3 linked regions of the Homo sapiens genome follow. The protein of the gene in region 2 interacts with the protein of the main gene of each other region in a pairwise test. Each region holds a gene or a part of one and is shown on either strand. Other genes may lie near its edges.

The links.
Region 1: the proteins of PPP6R1 (region 2) and PPP6C interact in binary tests that used the Homo sapiens proteins (3 or more experiments, as listed by UniProt).
Region 3: the proteins of PPP6R1 (region 2) and ANKRD52 interact in binary tests that used the Homo sapiens proteins (3 or more experiments, as listed by UniProt).

Annotation. Positions count from the first base shown.
Region 1 is NC_000009.12:125,179,791-125,186,814, reverse strand, and holds part of PPP6C (serine/threonine-protein phosphatase 6 catalytic subunit), read left to right. Parts: intron 1-7,024.
Region 2 is NC_000019.10:55,249,017-55,256,040, forward strand, and holds part of PPP6R1 (serine/threonine-protein phosphatase 6 regulatory subunit 1), read right to left. Parts: intron 6,758-7,024; exon of another isoform or gene 6,659-6,757; intron 4,576-6,658; exon of another isoform or gene 4,413-4,575; coding exon of another isoform or gene 4,410-4,412; intron 3,114-4,409; coding exon of another isoform or gene 3,078-3,113; intron 1-3,077. UniProt on the Homo sapiens protein: Regulatory subunit of protein phosphatase 6 (PP6). May function as a scaffolding PP6 subunit. Involved in the PP6-mediated dephosphorylation of NFKBIE opposing its degradation in response to TNF-alpha.
Region 3 is NC_000012.12:56,248,372-56,255,395, reverse strand, and holds part of ANKRD52 (serine/threonine-protein phosphatase 6 regulatory ankyrin repeat subunit C), read left to right. Parts: intron 1-443; coding exon 444-531; intron 532-675; coding exon 676-818; intron 819-1,116; coding exon 1,117-1,329; intron 1,330-1,595; coding exon 1,596-1,674; intron 1,675-1,993; coding exon 1,994-2,108; intron 2,109-2,309; coding exon 2,310-2,392; intron 2,393-2,498; coding exon 2,499-2,616; intron 2,617-2,825; coding exon 2,826-2,894; intron 2,895-3,080; coding exon 3,081-3,221; intron 3,222-3,300; coding exon 3,301-3,381; intron 3,382-6,525; coding exon 6,526-6,637; intron 6,638-6,829; coding exon 6,830-6,901; intron 6,902-7,024. UniProt on the Homo sapiens protein: Putative regulatory subunit of protein phosphatase 6 (PP6) that may be involved in the recognition of phosphoprotein substrates.

The DNA.
Region 1 (7,024 bases), on a different chromosome or scaffold from region 2:
CTTGACTTGTATTTGTTTCTTTTTTTTTCTTAAAAAAATTTTTAATCTTTTTTTTGGTGGGGGAGCGGGGACATGGTCTCACTCTCACCCATGCTGTAGTGTGGTGGCACAATCATGGCTCATTGCAGCCTCGACCTCCTGGGCTCAGGCAGTCCTCCCACCTTAGCCTCCTGAGAAGCTGGGACCACAGGCACATGCCCCCATGACCAGCTAATTTTTATTTATTTTTTTGGTAGAGACAGGGTCTTGCTATGTTACCCAGGCCAGTCTTGAACTCCTGGGCTCAAGCGATCCTCCCACCTTGGCTTCCCAAAATGCTGGGATAACAGGCATGAGCCACTATACTTGGCCTGTATCCATTTCTTAATAAACTTAAAAATATATGTTTTGGGCAACCAAGACAAAAGTATTCTGAATTTTTCTTTATAGGTAGAGACTTTTTTTTCTGTCTTGGAAATGCTTTTATCAGATTAATTTGTTGTGTTGCTCATCTCTGGTGTATTTAAAGAAATTTAATTTTTTTCTGTTTCTTGGCATGAAGTGCAACCTAAAATTAGGCCAAGAAAGTATGCCAGGAGTACTTTTTCTGAGGCTGTAAAGGCAAAATAAAACATTCTATTAAGAAAAGTAATCATTGAGGCCACTTAATGAGCAAGATGGAAAAGATTTGTTCTGTAGAAAAGAAGACAGAAATTTACTTGTGTTTTAAATTGATTAGAAGATAAAATACTAAATGCATACGATGTTCCAGATTTAATCACAATTTCTGTTTCGCTAAGTTGGAAATGGTCACATCACTAGTACTGGATCAAATCTACATAACTGTTTTTGTTTGTTTGTTCGCTCTTGTTGCTCAGGGTGGAGTGCAATGGCGTGAGCTTGGCTCACTGCAACCTCTGCCTCCCGGGTTCAAGCGATTCTCCTGCCTCAGCCTTCCTGAGTAGCTGTGATTACAGGCATGTGCCACCACGCCCAGTTAATTTTGTATTTTTAGTAGAGACCAGGTTTCCCCATGTTGTTCAGGCTGGTCTCGAACTCCTCACCTCAGATGATGCACCCACCTCGGCCTCCCAAAGTGCTGGGATTATAGGTGTGAGCCTGGCCTGTTAGTTTGTTTTTTTGAGACGGAGTCTTGCTCTGTTGCCCAGGCTAGAGTGCAGGTGCACGTTCTCAGCTCACTGCAACCTCCGCCTCCCGGATTCAAGCGATTCTCCTGCCTCAGCCTCCTGAGTAGCTGGGATTACAGGCACCCACCACCACTCCTGGCTAATTTTTGTATTTTTAGTAGAGATGGGGTTTCACCATGTTGGCCAGGCTGGTCTCAAACTCCTGACCTCAGGTGATCCACCCTTCTCAGCCTCCCAAAGTGCTGGGATTACAGGCGTGAGCCACCATGCCTGGCATACATAACAGTTTTGAAGGAATAAGAATGACATATGTGGGCCGGGAGGCTGAGGCAGGAGAATTGCTTGAGCCTGGGAGATGGAGGTTGCAGTGAGCCGAGATCATGCCACTGCACTCCAGCCTGGCCAACAGAGCGAGACCCTGTCTCAAAAAAAAAAAAAAATGACATATGTGAAAGTAAATGGACCACAGTGTAACCTTTCTTATAAAGAGCTCATGTGATTTTATCCACAAGAAAGATTTCAGAGAGATTAATAAAAGATACAGATTCCATACCTGGCTAAATGGAAGAATTAATGATAAAGGCAGGTTTACTGAATACTTATATTTAAGTATTAATATTTTTGGGGAGCAGGGGTTCTATAACTTGGAGGTTGTCTAATCTCTTGGACAGTTCTTAAGGGTGACATGTTTACCTGAGGTTTTTTTTTTTTTTTTTTTTTTGAGACTGAATCTAACTCTATTGCCCAGGCTGGAGTACAGTGGTACCATCTCAGCTCACTGCAGTCTCCACCTCCTGGGTTCAAGCAGTTCTGCCTCAGCTGGGATTACAGGTGCGCACTACCACACCCAGCTAATTTTTGTATATATATATTTTTTGGTAGAGATGGGGTTTCACCATGTTGGCCAGGCTGGTCTCGAACTTCTGGCCTCAGGTGATCCGCCCACCTCGGCCTCCCAAAGTGTTGGGATTACAGATGTGAGCCACTGTGTTTGGCCATTCCTTATTTGTGTTTTCCACAATTTTAGAACACTGCCCTGTATGTGATAATCAGTAAAGGTTTATTGACTCAAACTGTTTACTGCTTTATGACAAATACTTGTTTCTTCTTCTTCTTTTTTTTTTTTTCTTTGAGGTAGGGTCTCAGTCTGCTGCCCAGGGTGGAGTGCAGTGGTGCAGTTGTAGCTTGCTGCAACCTCAAACTCCTGGGCTCAATTGATCCTTCTGCCTCAGCCTCAAAAGTAGCTGGGAGTACAGGTGTGCAATAGTGTGCCCAGCTGATTAATTATTATTTTTATTTTTGAGATGGAGTCTCACTCTGTCACCAGGCTGGAGTGTAATGGCGCGATCTCGGCTCACTGCAACCTCTGCCTCCTGGGTTCAAACAATTCTCCTGCCTCAGCCTCCCAAGTAGCTGGGACTACAGATGCATGCCACCATGCCTGGCTAGTTTTTTGGTATTTTTGGTAAAGATGGGGTTTCACTGTGTTTGCCAGGATGGTCTCAATCTCCTGACCTCGTGATCCACCCGCCTTGGCCTCCCAAAGTGCAGGGATTATAGGCGTTAGCCACCGCGCCTGGCAAAAAAAAAATTTTTTTAAGGGATAGCGTCTTGCTATGCTGTCCAGGCTGGTCCCAAATGCTTCAGGTGATTCTCCTGCCTTGGCCTCCCAAAATGCTGAGATTATAGGTGTGAGCCACTGTGCCCAGCCAACAAACACTTATTTACATGGTTCCTTGTGTTGAGTACTGTTCCCTGTGGGTGCCAGGGGCAGAATTGGATACTTGTGTCTGCCTTTGAGGGGCTTTCAATATAGTAAGGGAGGTAAGGAGGTAAACAAAGACTGTAATAGAGGCTGACCAGGGTGTTGGCAAACAGAAGAAGCAGTATGTAACTTTAGAGTCAGAGATGATTTCATAAAGGAGCAGTTACGAGGGGCAGAGTTCAGGTAGACAAAATGAGAAGGAAAGAACATGCAAACAGAATAAACACCATGTGCAATAGTATAATGTAATTTGCAAGAACATGGCTGGTTCGGGGAACTTGAAGTGGTTTGGTATGGCTGGAGGTGGTACTGGAAAGAAAGATGCCAAATCATAGAAGAGTAGGCTGTTAAACTTAGATTGTTATTTTTTAGGTGGTGCATGAACACTATGAAATGTTTTTATATTTTAGGGAAAAATCATACTGTGATTCGTGATACTGTTTAAAATGTAGCTAACTAAAAATAAAAGTAGATTCAAAGAAAATTATTACAGGGATACACTGTTGTATGTGGTAGGAATATGACAAAATAATGAAAATGGTATTTGGTGTTTGGGAAACACTGCCATAAATGGAGGAATACGCTTGAGGAGTTTTTAAGAAGGAGAATGACAGTAGGCTTTTGAAATGTTTATTCTGGCAGCATTGTGGACCATGGATTGGAATGCAGGAAAAATGTCATAGAAGCAGTAGGCCCGGTGATATGAGAGTCTGAGATAAGGCAATGATAAGTGATTGTTGTGTTGGAAAGGAAATGAAGAAGGTATAGTGGCACCTGTTAACAGATTTGGTCTAGGTTATGATGAAGAGAGTTTAGCATAATTTTTTAGTTTCTGGCAAGGATTACTTAGTACTATAACTAGATTAAGGAATACGGGAAGTTTGGTTTGGGCCATATTGAGTTTGAGATGCTGCCAAGCTAAGACATTGAGATAGAGGTGTCCAGAATTACTCTTGGATACTTATGTTACTTAGATAACAACTACTTGTTGATTGCCAAATGTGCTCTAAACACTGTTCTAATAGTATTAAACGCAGGAGAAAGATCTAGACCAGTCGTTCTCAACTGGGGGCAATTTTGCCCCCCAAAGAATTTTTGGCAGTGTCTGGAGACATTTTTGGTTGTCACAGCTGGGTCAGGGGAGGGGTGGGAAGTTACTATGGGTATCTAGTAGGCGTAGATGTCGGAGATTTTGCTAAACATCCACAAGACAGCAAGCAGTCCCCTGCAATGAATAATTAGTAGTGCCATGGTTGAGAAACTCTGATCTGGCCTGAGGATACAGATACTACCTTCTGGATCATAAGCGTGTGAATATCATGGTCATTCCAGATTTCTAACTTCTCATTCCCAGTGATCTGTATTATAGTAGAGACTTTATATAAAGACTGTGTGAAATATAATGTTAGCTAGATATTTATTTAGTTAGTTACTTAGCTAGCTAGTTGAGATGAGGTTTTGCTATGTTGCCCAAGCTAGTCTTGAGCTCTGGGCCTCCAGCCATCTTCTTGCCTTGGCCTCCCAAAATGCTCATTTTACAGGTGTGAGCCACCACACCTGGCAGTGAGATCTTTTTTTTTAAAGCTAAGAGTGTTTTATAAATACCAGTATGTAAAAGTAGATAAAGGAAGTAGTATGTTTTAGATAACAAGATCAACTAAACAAGTAATTTTAAAAGTTTAGAACCCAGTGTTTGTGAGGGCAAGAGGGAACTGGGAGACAGAACAGAGAATAGAATGGAACTGTGAACAAATGTCTTGAGGAAAAGGTAGAGAAGAGACATAGAGGTCTGCTAAGAATGATGGCTATGAACCCCTTCCTGTTCAAGGATTAGAAAGTAGTTGGGCACCAAACATATGAAAAAGAGCACTGGTCATTAAAGAAATGCAAATCAAAACCGCAATGAGATACCATCTCACGCCAGTTAGAATGGCAATCATTAAAAAGTTAGGAAACAACAGGTGCTGGAGACGATTTGGAGAAATAGGAACACTTTTACACTGTTGGTGGGAGTGCAAATTAGTTCAACTGTTGTGGAAGACAGTGTAGCGATTCCTCAAGGATCTAGAACTAGAAATGCCATTTGGCCCAGCAATCCCATTACTGGGTATATACCCAAAGGATTATAAATCATTCTACTATAAAGATGCATGCACTTGCATGTTTACTGCAGCACTATTCACAATAGCAAAGACTTGGAACTAGCTCAAATGCCCATCGATGATAGACTGGTTAAAGAAAATGTGGCACATATACACCATGGAATACTTTGCAGGGACATGGATGAAGCTGGAAACCATCATTCTCAGCAAACTAACACAGGAACAGAAAACGAAACACCGCATGTTCTCACTCGTAAGCGGGAGTTGAACAATGAGAACATATGGGCAGAGGGGAGGGGAACATCACATGCTGGGGCCTGTCAGGGGGTCCGGGGTAAAGGGAGGGATATCATTAGGAGAAATACCGATTGTAGATGATGGGTTGATGGGTGCAGGAAACCACCATGGCACGTGGATACCTAAGTAACAAACCTGCACGTTCTGCACATGTGTCCCAGAACTTAAGTATAATAAAAAATAAATAAATAGAAAACAGAACACAAAAAAAGAAAGAAAAAATATTTGGGCACGATGAGGAGAAAGGGGTATAGTTTACCCTAAATTTGGGATAAAGCTGTAAAGGGTTTGGGAGGAGAGGAGCATGTGTCTTTACTATGATGACAAGGCAGGGCTCTTTGAGGCCGCTGTGAGTGTAGTTGATTGAGTCACGTAGCGTTTATAGTGAGATTGCATAGACTTCTTATTTTTGTGTGCGCGTGATAGCGATTTGTAAGCTACTGCCAAACTAGAGATGAGAGGCAATAGCTTTGGCTTAGAGACATAGCTCTCTAAATCCTCAGTTGGGGTCAGCAGAGGTGGCAGTCGTAGGACGCAGCTGTAATTTTACTCTAGTTAGTGTGCCTGGGCCCTGGTTGAAGGCTGCTGCTAGGTAGTTTACACGTGTTCTCCAGACACTCAATCTTTCAGATTGACAGAGTTTCACAGCGATGTTCTTCAGTTTATAGTCCACTGTTATTTTCAGGCTAGCACATAGTGTATGGGGTGATAACCAGGGATGACTTCAAGTTTAGGAGGCCTTATGGACTAGGAGAACCAGTTACATGTCAGCGAAAATTCTGGCACATTGAAATATGGGAACCGGCCAGACACAGTGGCTCACGCCTGTAACCCCAGCACTTTGGGAGGCTAAGGTGGGTGTATCACCTGAGGTCAGGAGTTTGAGACCAGCCTGGCCAACATGGCGAAACCCTGTCTCTACTAAAAATACAAAAATTAACCAGGCATGGTGGCGTGTGCCGTAATCCCAGCTACTGGGGGGCTGAGGCAGGAGAATCGCTTGAACCTGGGAGGCGGAGGGTGTAGTGAGCCAAGATCACGCCATTGCACTGCAGCCTGGGTGACAAGAGCGAAACTCCATCTCAAAAAAAGAAAAAATTACAGGCCAAACTTAGAATCATTCATCAGTTCCTGGCATATTTGTTCTTTAATGCAAATAGGTTGCAAACTTTGGATGCTAATTATTATAAAAATAAATATGTATCATAGGTCTAATGGATTATTAATAGAAGTAGGATGCTGTGCAACACTGATATTTTGAAATTGACTGGAAAGACAGCCGTCTATCCACAAGGACTAACTGGATTGAGTGGTTGTGGTCAAGGTTGTGATTATTATTATTTATGAGGTAATACATAGGGCTGTGGGGTGTTGGTATGGGGATGAGGGGAGTGACTGCTAATGTGTATATGGTTTCTTTTTGGGGTGATGAAAGTGTCCTAAAATTGATTATGGTGATGGTTGCCACCACTGTGAATATAATGAAAACCATTGACTCTTACCCTTCAAAGGGATGCATTTTATGTAGGTGAATTATGTTGCAATAGTTGTTTTAAAAAATTATATTCGGGCTGGGTGTGATGCTCACACTTGTAATCCTAGCACTTTGGGAGGCTGAGGCGGGTGGATCACCTGAGGTCAGGAGCTCGAGACCAGCCTGGCCAACGTGGTGAAACCCCATCTCTACTAAAAATATAAAAATTAGCTGGGTGTGGTGGCAGGTGCCTGTAATC
Region 2 (7,024 bases):
AATCTTGATATAACACTATATGGGTCCCTACACCTGGCCAATGACAGTTGAGGGTGGAGCAGAGGGAAGAGTTCCGTGACCAACGACAGTCATGGCGGCAGCAGGAGGACTAGGGGAGATAGCAGCAGCCTCCAGGCATTTGAACCCCTGCTCCTCTGGGGGGCCTGCCAGGTCCCAGTCCACAGCACCCAGTGACTCACCACTTACCCCTCACCAGTCCACTTTTCCCAATAATCCTTTGTTTTTGAGGAGTCTCACTCTGTTGCCCAGGCTGGAATGCAGTGGCACAATCTAGGTTCACCTCAACCTTCACCTCCCGGGTTCAGGCGATTCTTCCGCCTCAACCTCCCTAGTAGCTGGTACTACAAGCATCTGCCACCACACCCGGCTAATTTTTCTATTTTGGTAGAGATGGGATTTCACCACGTTAGCCAGGCTGGCCTTGAACTCCTAACCTCAGGTGATCCGCCCACCTGGGCCTCTCAAAGTGTTGGGATTACAGGCATGAGCCACCATGCCCAGACTCCCAATATTCCTTCTAAGGTTGGGTGTGGTGGCTCACGCCTATAATCCCAGCACTTTGGGAGGCCCAGGCAGGCAGATCACCCGGGGTCAGGAGTTTGACACCAGTCTGGCCAACATGATGAAACCCCGTGTCTACTAAAAATACAAAAATTAGCCGGGCATGGTGGTGTGTGCCTATAGTCCCAGCTACTCGGGAGGCTGAGGCAGGAGAACTGCCTGAACCCGGGAGCGGAGGTTGCAGTGAGTCGAGATTGCGCCACTGCACTCCAGCCTGGGTGGCAGAGCAACACTCTGTCTCGGAAAAAAAAAAAAATCCTTTTAAAGCACAAACATGAGTACCCGCACCTGCTCGGTGATGTGCACTCCACCAAGCCTGCATCCAGGCTCTCGTGCCCCTGCCCAGCCAGCTCACTGACTGACCTCCATGCCCACGGTGACCCCAGTGCCCTGGGGAGGCCGTGCCCCATGCCACCTCGCCAGTGCTCCTGGGGCTGCCACTTCAGGTGTCTCCTGCACAGCCCGTGGCTGCCTGAGGCACAGTGCTGGATGGATATCCAGGAGGCCCTGCGGGTCTGGGTGGATGGGGGCATTCCAGGCAATGATGTCGATGGTATCAGCCACTGCGCTCCAGCACCTGCACTGCGCTGACTACTCTGAAAAGGACTTCACAGCCATCACCTCCACCAACTCTCACAACCACCCTCCAGGGAATGGCCTTATTTTACAGGAGAGGAAACTGAGGCACACCAAAGTAAATGCCTATGCCCCGATCCAGGGGTTGGCGGGCAGTGAAGCTGGCACTCTCAGCTTTCAGAAGTTGTATTTTCAGGGTGCAGAGCCCTTGTCCCAGCACAGGGCCTGTGTAGTGGACACTTAAGGGATGAATGAGCGAGTTCCCGCTGAGCCGGCTCCAGCACTTGCTCTGCCTGAGGGACTAGCCCTGGCCACAGTGACCCCGACTCTCACCTCAGGGAGGAGCCTGCCATTTCCAGGCCCACCCTGAAGGGACCTGTCTGGATGGTAAACTCCCTGTCCACCTTGTCCCCAGCTGCTAGTGCTTACTCAACAGACATCCCTGGATTCAGGATGGAGGGCTGTGGTCCTCAGGACCCTCCCAGCCCAGCTGTGACAGCACAGTTCGGCCAGAGGCCTGAGTTCTCCTCCAACCCAGCACCACCAGAAATCTAGGGACTTATCAGGCCTCCCACCCCGACCCAGGCACCGCTGACCTCCCCAAACATAACCATCCCACCCCTTCTGCCTGCATGACCACCACTTGACGGCAGGCCCCCCACACTCGACCGCAGGCGACCCCTGCTCGTTCCCTCTCCCCACAGCCATGCAGAGCTTGCTGAAGGGAAAATCAGAACCGCCCTCTCATCGGGTCAGCGCCTGGGACCCTCAATGACCTCCCACTCCCTACTTGCCCTGGCCAAGCTGGCCTTCTGTTTTCAGAACACACTAAGCTTGGGTCTACCCCAGCGACTTTGTCCTAATAACTCACTTTCTCATCCTCAGATCTCTTACTAAGCATTCACCTCACAGAAGGGCCTTCCCTGGCCTGCCTGGCTCAAGCAGCCCCCAGCCCCGCCTTTGTCCACCACTGTCTCCCTGTCTCCCTGAGCTGTGCGTTCTGACCTGCCGCCTGGAAGCATCTCTGTGACACAGCAATGAAGCACTGGAGGTACACACTCGTGGCCCTACAATGCTTCCTCTAGAACCTTCCCCCTAGGTTACCATGGGCACCTGAGGGCAGCACCTAGCATGGAACCTGGCCCTGGCAATAAACGCTCACAAGTATTAGCTGAAAAGCAAACCTCATTTTCACAAGGCCCCAGCTCCTCCCAGGCAGGAGGCTGCCGTACCTGTCAGGGCGTTAGACGAAGTGAAATCACTCCCACTCCGGCCCCTCCCAGCCACTCCTACGGGGTCCCTAAATCAGGAGGTGGGGGAAAGTGCAAGATCGCCCTGGGCAGGCAATGGGTGTGTATTTTCCCCTGTGTCAAGAGTGACGAAGGCACCACCACCTCACAAGGAAATACAACTGTTTCCCTTCCTTGCTCCGGGAACCTCTGTGTGCACAGTGGTAACTCCCCACCTCCCCACTTCTGCCCAGATGCTAGACCTCCTCAAGGGACCATCCCCTACTTCCCAGCCCGCTTGACAAGGAATGCGACAGGCCGACCACCAAGTGTCCATGTCACAGATGAGAAAACTCAGGCTCAGCAAAGGTGACTCACCAGCGTGCTGAGGGAAGCGGGAGGGGGAATGGATTTCCTGATCTGGGTGTACCTGGGACCAGAATAATCTCAAGGGGCAACCGCCAAATTTATCATGACTCTGCCAATTTCCGGCCTAAGGCTGTGGCGAGCAAAGCACCGAGACGTGGCAAGCACACACACACAGCCTCTTTCTCCGTGGGAGACCAAGCAGGCTGATAGGCTGCCCATGCCATGCCAGCAAAGCCAGTCCCAAGGAACCACACACTGCAGGCCTCCAACTATGTGAAGCATCCAGAACAGGCAAATCCATAGAGACAGAAAAGAGCTTACAGGCTTCCAGGAGCTGGCGGGGATTGGGCGAAGTTCCTGAAAGGAAAGGGTGATTAAAAAAAAGTTCCAAAATCAATTGTGGTGATGTTTCCACAACGTTGTGAATACACTAAGAACCACTGAATTGTACCCTTTATTTATTATTTTTTTTCTTGAGACAGAGTCTCTCTCTGTCACCCAGCCTGGAGTGCAGTGGCGCGATCTCGGCTCACCGCAACCTCCAGCTCCTGGGTTCAAGCATATCTCCTGCCTCAGCCTCCCGAGTAGTGGGGACTACAGGTGCGCACCACCATTCTTGGCTGATTTTTTTTTTTTTTTTTTTTGAGACAGAGTTTCGCTCTGTCACCCAGGCTGGAGTGCAGCGGCGCGATCTCGGCTCACTGCAATCTCCGCCTCCCGGTTTTAAGCAATTCTCCCACCTCAGCCTGAGTACCTGGGATTACAGGAGTGCGCCACCACACCCAGCTAATTTTTGTGTGTGTTTTTTTAGTAAAGACGGGGTTTCACCATATTGGCCAGGCTGGTCTCGAACTACTGACCTTGTGATCCGCCTGCCTGGGCCTCCCAAAGCACTGGGATTACAGGCATGAATCACCACGCCCGGCCTAATTTTTGCATTTTTTTAGTACAGACGGGGTTTCACCACGTTGGCCAGGCTGGTCTTGAATGCCTGACCTCAAGTGATCTGCCTGCCTCGGCCTCCCAAAGTGCTGGGCTTACAGGCGTGAGCCACTGCGCCTGGCTGTACACTCTAAATGGATGAACTGTACAGAATATCTCAATAAAAACTGTTGGGGGAAAAAAAAAAACCTGCCTCAGGCCATCGGCCATGGCAGGGACAGAGCCAGGGCCAGGCTCAGGCCTTGCACTATGTCCCAGCGTCCGCAGAGCTGATGAGATGCCGGCCAGCCTGGCAGAGCTGAAGCTGCCAAGGCTCAGCCCTGGGGCACTCACCCAGGTTACCCCTTCCCCATCCCTCACCACCAACAGCTCTAAGCTAAGTGAGCCCCTCCACAGTGGGGACGGGATAGGAGCAGCACCAAGCCAGCATCTGTAGAAAATCCATGGACCCGCACTTGCAGAGACACTTGTCTCGGCTCCACATCAAGACCAAGTAAAGAATTCTTATTATTCCGACAGAGTCTCATGTGGAAGAGGGGCCCAGAGGGGTGGAGCCACATGGCTAGCAAGAGGCTTCCAGTGTGCCCTGGTCTCTAAACAACAGGCAGAAATTCTCACACTGAGGCCCACCGTTCACTTCTAAGATACCTGATTAAAGGGCACAGGCATGGCCCTCGGCCCCCAAACCCCCTACCCCTGGTACAGACTAACCATCTGCTTCGGGGAAAAGGTCAGGCTTCCCCTCCAAACCGAGCTCCCCAGACAACTGGGGCAGGGGCAGCCAGAATGAGACGGGAGGGTGCTCGCTGGTGCACGGCATCCAAGAACTTCGGCCCTGAGAACCCAGGCAGCGCCCTGAACTCTCCATCTCAAGTGGCTCCTCTGAAAATCAGAATAGACTGAAAGGCTCAAATGCAATTGAGTGGTCGACACTCTACAGACCTCAATTATCAGGCTCTAAACAGAATGAAGATGCAAATATGGAAGAACAGAAAAAAAGAGAAAAAAACTTTCCCCCACCACAACCTCTGAATGCACTATGGCCTGAAGCCCTCTCAGTCCCCTCTCCCAACCTAATGAAGCCTGCTAGAATCCCTGCGAATGGAGCAGGAGAGTGGGTTTCACTCGCACTCTCCTGGTGAACCTGGGCAGGCGCTTGATTTCTCTGAGTCTCATTTCCTCATCCGTGAAAAGGAGACACAGCCCACCAGGGCGGGCTGCTGTGAAAAGGCATTGAGCTAAAGCAGGTGGCCGTGACACAGCAGGAGCTCAGCAGGTGCAAGTCTCTTCCGGTCCAACCCTGAGGCCACGTCCAGATGCTTTCTGGCAGGACAGGTAGGGGACCGGTCACTACCCCAAAGGTGATGGTGCTAAACACAGAGGAGCAGGAGAAAGACTCTACCCATTTGCCTAAGTGACTCAAGTACTTTTCCTCAGACCATTCGGATACTACGGCAGGCGCCATGCACCCCGCCACCCCCATTCTTTGCAACTTTTAGCAACTTCAAGAAAGCGGAAGTGACTACCACTAGTTTTTAGCTACCGTTTGAAAACCATGAGTCTGGCTGCAAACGGAAGAAGGGGAAATTGTAAATGAGAAAGGAAGCCATTAAAAACGAAAACTACCTCTGCCGCTCTCCCTCCACCAGCTCTGCACTATTGCCTCTGGTTTCTGACTTAGCTGTGGTGTTTTAGGGCCTTCAACACCAGCCACCCCTCAAGGGCCTGCCAGCCCCTTCCTTCCCCTGCTTGGACAGGCACTAACTGCGGCTCCCACAGAGCCATCCCCACTGCTGCACGTATCCGCCCAAGCACAGCTCTGCCGCCAGGGAACCGGTGGGCCCATGCTTCATCTGTCACCCCTTCCCAACCTGCGCTGACCCACGAGCACCCAGAAATGGAGGTCATGGGCACAGATGCCTCAGGGGGCCTCCAGAAACAGCTGCCTGAGCTGTCCCAATGCTCAGCAGAAGCTCCAACGCCTGGCCCCCTGGCCGGTACCCTAGGAAGGGAAAGAGCCTGCTACCAGCAGCAGGCTGGCCAGCACCCAGCTCCTTAAAGGGCCCAGAGTCCGGAGGACAGCAAGACCATCTCCCTCTAATGTCCCCCAAGCCTCTGTCAGCTCTCAGCCAAATCTGAAAGGGGGCTGGGAACACCCAATTCCAGGGATGCAGTGACAGTAATGGCAACCCCACCACCTCTGGGCAGGACCTACGGTGTGTGCCGGCTGCAGAATCCGGCATCACCCACCCAGCAAGGAGGAACCAGGGACACCAATTTGATAGAAAGGGCCACTGGGGCCAGAGGAGAAGGGGGAGCGGCCCAAGGCCCAACAAGATGATGAGCTAGGGCTTTCCTGTGGCTTGGGAAAGCCTTGGGGAGGGTCCCCACTTAAAGAGAACCCTCAGTGCCTCCCCCTCTGGCCCCAGAAGCACACCCTCCCAAGGGAGCTAGCAGCCCTGGTCCAACCCCAGAGGATGGAATAACTAGGAAACAGAAGAGTCTAGAAACACTGGCCAAGGACTGGGACGGGGACTTGAACATCCACATTCAAATCGTCTCCTGAACTGGCCACAGGTTTAAAGGAAAGAAAGGAAAAGACCAATGAACGGATTTGAAATAGCTCTTTGGAAAAACAGAAAGGGGCAGAGTTAGGGTTACAGTGTGATCCAAAGTCAGAAAAGCTTGCATTCCCATTTGACCTCCCCAAACTGAAATCTCTGTGGCCTAGACCAAGGATCTCACCCCACCGAGCCCCAGTTTCCTTATCCGGGAAATACCTCACAGATGGGGTTACTATAAGGCAGCACTCTCTGGAGAAGGACCCACAAAACTGGTGTGCAAAGGGAAAACCACGGTTTGGCATGGAAAGGCAGGTGAGCCCCATCAAGCCGGGTGCCGAGTGATTCCCACTCTGGCAAGGCCCCTCACTCTCACCAAAGCTCTCAGGCCTCTCTCACCTCATCTCTTGCTACCTCCCGCGTGGGCGTCACACCTGACTGCCCTCAGCCGGGGCTGGGCTGCTCCCTCCTCCTTCCCGGAGCTCTTCGAGTCTGACTAGCTCCTCCTGGGTCCTTCAGGCCCCCACACAGACACCACTTCCTCCAGGGAGCCTCCCCCCCGCATCTGTGTTAGAGGCCTGCTCCACGCCGCTTCCACAGCATCCCGCAGTCACCCTGGAACAGCATGTGAGCCTCGGCTCTGTGACAGGATGTACCTGTTCAGTCATCTGCCTCCCCCTGAAACATGCCGACTTCCCAGGATCTAGCATAAGGCCAGGCCCAACTAAAGCTACTTGTTGAATTAATGAAAACTGAAGCCAGAGA
Region 3 (7,024 bases), on a different chromosome or scaffold from region 2:
ACATGGTGAAACCCTGTCTCTACTAAAAATACAAAAAATTAGCCGGGTGTGGTGGCGGCCGCCTGTAGTCCCAGCTACTCGGGAGACTGAGGCAGGAGAATGGCGTGAACCCGGGAGGCGGAGCTTGCAATGAGCCGAAATCATGCCACTGAACTCCAGCCTGGGTAACAGAGCGAGACTGTCTCAAAAAAAAAAAAAAAAAGAGTTTAAGAACCACCAGATCACCTGAAGAGACTCTCTTGTTTCCCTTAAAGTTCCAAATCTCTCCAGTATCTCCTCCTTAGTGCCTGCTTCTGCTGTTCCCTCGAGTCCTCCAGGTTGTTTTGCTCATGGAAAAAGGCATTAGGCTGCCTCAGCCTTTTCAGGAGATGAGGCCTCTGCTCTTAGGTAGGTTGAGGGCACGAATCTAGCTCTGAACAGGTGTCTTTCATATCCTGATGCAGACGGTGAACCTGCTCCTCAACAAGGGAGCCAGCCTGAATGTCTGTGACAAAAAGGAGCGGCAGCCTCTGCATTGGGCAGCTTTTCTAGGTGAGAGAGAATACACGGGAAAATCAGAAATTTGACATTTAGGATTCCTAGGGCAGGGATGTGGGGTTGCAGCCTTTGAAGAGAGGAGTGTAGGGTCTTAGAGTTTACCTTCTACTTCCTTTAGAGTGTCTTCTCTTTTCTCAGGGCACTTGGAGGTCCTAAAACTGCTGGTGGCACGGGGAGCAGACCTCGGCTGCAAGGACCGCAAGGGCTATGGGCTGCTCCATACAGCTGCTGCCAGTGGCCAGATTGAAGTGGTGAAGTACCTGCTTCGGATGGGAGCGGAGGTCAGGGCTTTGAGCTCTGGGGTTGGGAACTATGGGCAGCAAGTAGGAGATTATAGTCTGTTACGGAGATATGAGGTATTGGGATGTTGGTATAGTTTTGGGAAGTTGGAAGGACGTGGTAGAGAGGGTCTGAATAATGCTTACCTTAGCCATAGTGCCCTTAGTACCTTAGTACCTTGGGTCATAAACCCGAGAGGAAATGAGGCAGTCGTTGGATTTCTGGGATCTGGAGGCTACATGTGCTGGCTTCTACTTTGTTTAAACTGATACCACCTTACTCTCACCCCTGAATATCCAGATCGATGAACCCAATGCTTTTGGAAACACAGCTTTGCACATCGCCTGCTACCTGGGCCAGGATGCTGTGGCTATTGAGCTGGTGAATGCCGGAGCCAATGTCAACCAGCCGAATGACAAGGGCTTCACGCCACTGCATGTGGCTGCAGTCTCCACCAATGGCGCTCTCTGCTTGGAGCTACTGGTTAATAATGGGGCTGACGTCAACTACCAGGTGCCTGAAGGGATAAGGCTTAGACCAGTGGGGAGCGAAACTTGGATCTAGGGGTCCTGACTGTATCTGGATAGCTCTCTTGGGGAATTATCCACTTGCTTCCTAGGGTAATCAGACCTTGCCAGGGACTCAGGAAAGAGTGGGCTAAGAAGGTGCCATATGACCCTTTTGTCCTTAGAGATATGTCCTTGGAAGGGAGGTAGGGCATTCTCTGTGCTTTGCACTGGAAAAAAAAACAAAAACAAAAACCCACCATGTTTCCACAGAGCAAAGAAGGGAAAAGTCCTCTGCACATGGCTGCAATCCATGGCCGTTTCACACGCTCCCAGATCCTCATCCAGAATGGTATGGACCTGGGAGACTTTGTGCTCTCATCCCCTCCTCCCCCAAGGAACTCATTTCTAGAATCTAGGGAGGTTCCTAACTTCCTTCTCCTGCCCTCTTCCAGTAGGATAGGCCCTTGGAACTCTGACCAAGGGACCTGTGGAAATGGCCCTGCTCTGCCCTGCCCAGTCTCCTAAGGCCTAGAAACAGGATAAAATATGTAGAATCCTGGGCCTGGCACCTGATGCATACATAGTAGGCACTCAAATCATGGCTAGCTCGCGAAAGTGGTCTTAAGCCTGAGGTCTGCCTGAGCTTGTGTGTGTGCATCCCCTCACAGGCAGCGAGATTGATTGTGCCGACAAATTTGGGAACACGCCACTGCATGTGGCTGCTCGATATGGACACGAGCTGCTCATCAGCACCCTCATGACCAATGGCGCAGATACCGCCCGGTGAGTCAGGGCCCCGACTCCACTTCTGGGCTGCCCAGATCTGCACAGACTGCTCACATCAACCATGGAGGCACAGATAAGCTTGCCAAAGGGCACCTTGGAGAACCTCCTACCCTGACTCTAGGGTGGTGGTAGGTCACAGAAGAGGTCTTACTTGGTCCCTCCTTGACCCAAGGACTGAGTCCCTCAACTTCTCTCTAGGCGTGGCATCCATGACATGTTCCCCCTGCACTTAGCTGTTCTCTTTGGATTCTCTGACTGTTGTCGTAAGCTTCTTTCCTCAGGTATGTGCTGATGGGCTGGGGATTGGCAGGTGTATAGGAGAGCAAAGGCCTTTCCCTCCCTGCTGAACACTCTCAGATGTGACCTGTGGCTGTTCTGTGCCTCCAGGTCAGTTGTACAGCATTGTGTCTTCACTCAGCAATGAGCATGTGCTTTCAGCTGGGTTTGACATCAATACACCTGACAACCTTGGCCGTACCTGTCTTCATGCTGCTGCTTCCGGAGGGTGAGTTCTCTTTCTCTCTCCCATGCTTTGAGCAGGGAGCTGGGCAAAGGTCTGGGCCCCTCATTCTTGCCTGCCCAGATCTATTCCCCCTCTCACAATGAAAGCAGTCACAGCAGAAAGGGCTTGCTAGTCCCATCCTTCCTTAGCCCCACCCTGGGCCTGTGGCTTCCCTTTGAGGCTGTAACTCTCTTAACACATCTTTCTTTTAGGAATGTTGAATGTCTTAATTTGCTGTTGAGCAGTGGAGCTGACTTGAGGAGGAGGGACAAATTTGGCAGGTATGCTAATATGCAGGGGTAAACATAGGGAATATCTGATTAGAGAAACAAATGGTAGAGGGAGGAAGGGTTTAGATTGGAGACTTAAATAAGGAGAATGTTACAAAGCAGCATTTGGCTGCACATCTGATTGCATTCGTATCTGTCTCTGATTCTCTTCCCCACCCTCCTTCACTTCTTCCCCAGGACCCCACTGCACTATGCAGCTGCTAACGGTAGCTACCAGTGTGCAGTAACATTGGTGACTGCTGGGGCAGGTGTCAACGAGGCCGACTGTAAAGGCTGCTCTCCCCTCCACTACGCTGCCGCTTCTGACACTTACAGGAGGTGAGGCTACCAGTCTGGTCCTTCTCAGCCCCATTCACCTCCCTGAGCCTGGCCCTAACTTTCTCTCTCTCTTCCCCAGAGCGGAACCCCATACACCTTCCAGCCATGATGCCGAAGAGGACGAGCCACTGAAGGAGTCCCGCAGGAAGGAGGCCTTCTTGTGAGTAGCAGAGAGGGCCCCTGGGATGTGCTTTCCCCAACCCATGCAAGCTCTGGCCCTACTGTCCTCCTACCTAATCTGAACCTCTACCCTATACTGCTGCTGTCCTGCCGGTCAGCCAGCAGTGTGTCTTGAGCCCTCTGGGTGTAGTCCATAGTGGGCAAAGACAAAAGTATGAGATTGAAGCTCAGGAGCTTCAGGGGGAAAAAAAAACCCAAAAGTATGAGACATAGTTCCTTCCCTAAAGGAATGGATTTTTTTTTTTTTTTTTTTTTTGGAGACAGAGTCTCACTCTGTTGCCCAGGCTGGAATGCAGTGGTGTGATCTCAGCTCACCGCGCCCGGCTGGTCTTCTTGAGAGGATTAGAAAAGCTAAATGTACAAAATAATTTGTTTATTCCACAAGCATTAATTAAATATTTACTTACTAGGTTCCAAGTACTGTGCTAGATACTAAGGATAAAAGATGAGGCTGGGCGTAGTGGCTCAAGCTTGTAATCCTAGCACTTAGGGAGGCTGAGGTAGGCAGATCACCTGAGGTTAGGAGTTCAAGACCAGCTTGACCAACATGGTGAAACCCCGTCTCTACTAAAAATACAAAAAATTAACCAGGTGTGGTGGCACACGCCTATAATCCCAGCTACTCAGGAGGCCGAGGCAGGAGAATTGCTTGAACCAGGGAGGTGGAGGTTGTAGTGAGCCGAGATCACGCCACTGCACTCCAGCCTGGGCAACCGAACAAGACTCTGTCTCAAAAAAATTAAAATTAAAAATAGGCCGGGTGTGGTGGTTCACGCCTATAATCCCAGCACTTTGGGAGGCCGAGGCAGGCAGATCATCTGAGGTCAGGAGTTCGAGACCAGCCTGGCCAACGTGGTGAAACCCCGTCTCTACTAAAAATATAAAAATTAGCTGGTCATGTTGGCAGGCACCTGTAATCCCAGCTACTCGGGTGGCTAAGGCAGGAGAATCACTTGAACCAGGGAGGTGGAGGTTGCAGTGAGTCAAGATCACACTAATCCACTCCAACCTGGGCGACAGAGTGAGACTCTGTCTCCAAAAAAACAAATAAATAAATAAAATTAAATAAAAATTTAAAAAGGATGAATTGTCCCAAATTTCTGTCTTTCGAAAGCTAATAATCTATTGGGAAAGATAAATAAAAGGACACTTATGCATACTAATGTAAGATGTTAATGACGGGAAACTAGGTATAGGTTATGTGAGAACTCCCTGTACTATCTTCACAATTTTTCTTTTTCTTTCTTTTTTTTTTTTTTTAATTAATTTATTTTGTAGGTCAGGGATCTCTCTGTGTTGCCCACACTGGTCTCGAACTCCTGGGCTCAAGCAATCCTCCTGCCTCAGACTCCCAAAGTGCTGGGATTACAGATATGAGCCACCACACCTAGCCCACAATTTTTCTATAAATCTAATAATATTCTAAAACAAAAAGTTTATTTTTTGCTGGGCACGGTGGCACATGCATATATTCCCAGTTATTCAGGAGGCAGGTGCAGGTAAGGCAAGAGGATCATGCAAACCCAGGAGTTTGAGGCTGTAGTGCACTATGATCATGCCTATGAATAGCCACTGCACCCCAGCCTGGGCAGCCTAGTGAGACCCCGTCTCTAAAAAAAAAAAAAACCCACAAAAATCAGGTAGGCACAGTGACTCATGCCTGTAATTCCAGCACTGAGGTGGGAGGATTGCTTGAGCCCAGGAGTATGAGACCAGCCTGGCTAACACATAATGAGAACTCATCTCTATTTTATTTAATTAAATAAATAAATAAATTAATTAATTTATTTATTTATTTGAGATGGAGTCTTGCTCTGTCACCCAGGCTCTAGTGCAGTTGCGCGATCTCAGCTCACTGCAACCTCTACCTCCGGGGTTCAAGCGATTCTCCTGCCTCTTCCTCCTGAGTAGCTGGGATTACAGGTGCCTATCACCACGCCCAGCTAATTGTTTTTTTGAAGACCGAGTCTCACTCTGTTGCCCAGGCTGGAGTGCAGTGGCATGAACTTGGCTCACTGCAACCTCCACCTCCTGGGTTCAAGCAATTCTGCCTCAGCCTCCTGAGTAGCTGGGACTACAGGAGCACGCTGCCACGCCTGGCTAATTTTTTGTATTTTAGTACAGACGGGGTTTCACCATGTTGCCCAGGCTGGTCTTGAACTCCCGAGCTCAGGCGATCCACCTGCCTTGGCCTCCCAAAGTGCTAGGATTGCAGGCGTGAGCCACCACGCCCAGCCTAATTTTTGTATTTTTAGTAGAAACAGGGTTTCGCCATGTTGGCGAGGCTGGCCACGAACTCCTGACCGCGGGTGATCTGCCCACCTCAGCCTCCTAAAGTGCTGGAATTAAAGATGTGAGCAACCGAGCCAGGCCCCTGTCTCCATTTAAAATAAGTAAATTAAATAATTTTTTTTTAAGATTTATTTTTTTAAAAAGGACACTAAAATCCAAGAGGCTCAGCTATTACCTTCAGCAAGTTACTTCTCTATGCCTCAATTTCATCACCCACAGTAAGGATAAAAATAGTATCTACTTCATGGGATCTTTATGAGGATTAAATTATTTAATATACATGAAGTACTTAGAACTGTGCTTGACAGTAAGTGCTACTTTATTATTATTACTACTACTACAACTACTACTAAGGTATGAGAAGACTGCCAAGGGAGCACAGAGGAAGAGGCATCTTCCCCAGGGAAGGCTGGGAAAGGCCTCACAGAGGAGAGAAGCTGGGACTGAGTTTGAGATGAACAGGACTTATTCGGGTGGGCTGGGAGGAGAAAGCATCCTAGGGCAGGGGTTGGCGTGCCTGGAGGTGGGGAAAGCATGTTGGTCAGCAGAAGGCTGATAACTGAACATCATGCTCTAGGTTCTCTAGGAGAGCATTCAGAGGATAAAGGAGGGCATTGAAGCCAGAGGGGTTCAGGGCAGACCTTGAGAAGGTAAAGTGGGTCTGGAGCTGCCATTGAAGAATGGGTAGGATTTAGAGAACCTACCTAGAGCTGAGGACGGGTGGCGGCCAGGTAGGCCTGGAGGGCCTTGGTCCTCTCCTCTGGCCCTCCCAGAACTGTGCCCTCCTGGGCTGGGCCTGTCCCTGCCTCACAGTCTACCCCCGGCTCCCCAGCTGTCTGGAGTTCTTACTGGATAACGGTGCAGACCCCTCCCTGCGGGACAGGCAGGGCTACACAGCTGTGCACTATGCAGCCGCCTATGGCAACAGACAGAACCTCGAACTGGTATGTGTTGGGGCCCGGCCTGCAGGAGGGGAGGCAGGGGCAGGGCACAGGGTTTGTGGATTCCAAAACTAAGGGTTCAATCAAATGTGGTCTTTGGATCCAGAGGCTTAGTGGGGATTACTGCGAGTCGGGGACTGGGGTACTATCTTGGGAGTTCCAGAGTCTCAGCACCTACTTTCCTGTCCTTTGCAGCTCTTAGAAATGTCCTTTAACTGCCTGGAGGATGTGGAGAGCACCATTCCAGTCAGCCCTTTGCACTTAGCTGTGAGTCCCACGTCTTTTTTCTGTTGCCTTCCTTGTCCTACCTGTTCCCAGGCCCTAACAAAGGTGCCAGCACTTGTGAAGTTATCCTTCCTTCTGCCTTTTTGTGGGAGAGGGGATAAGCAC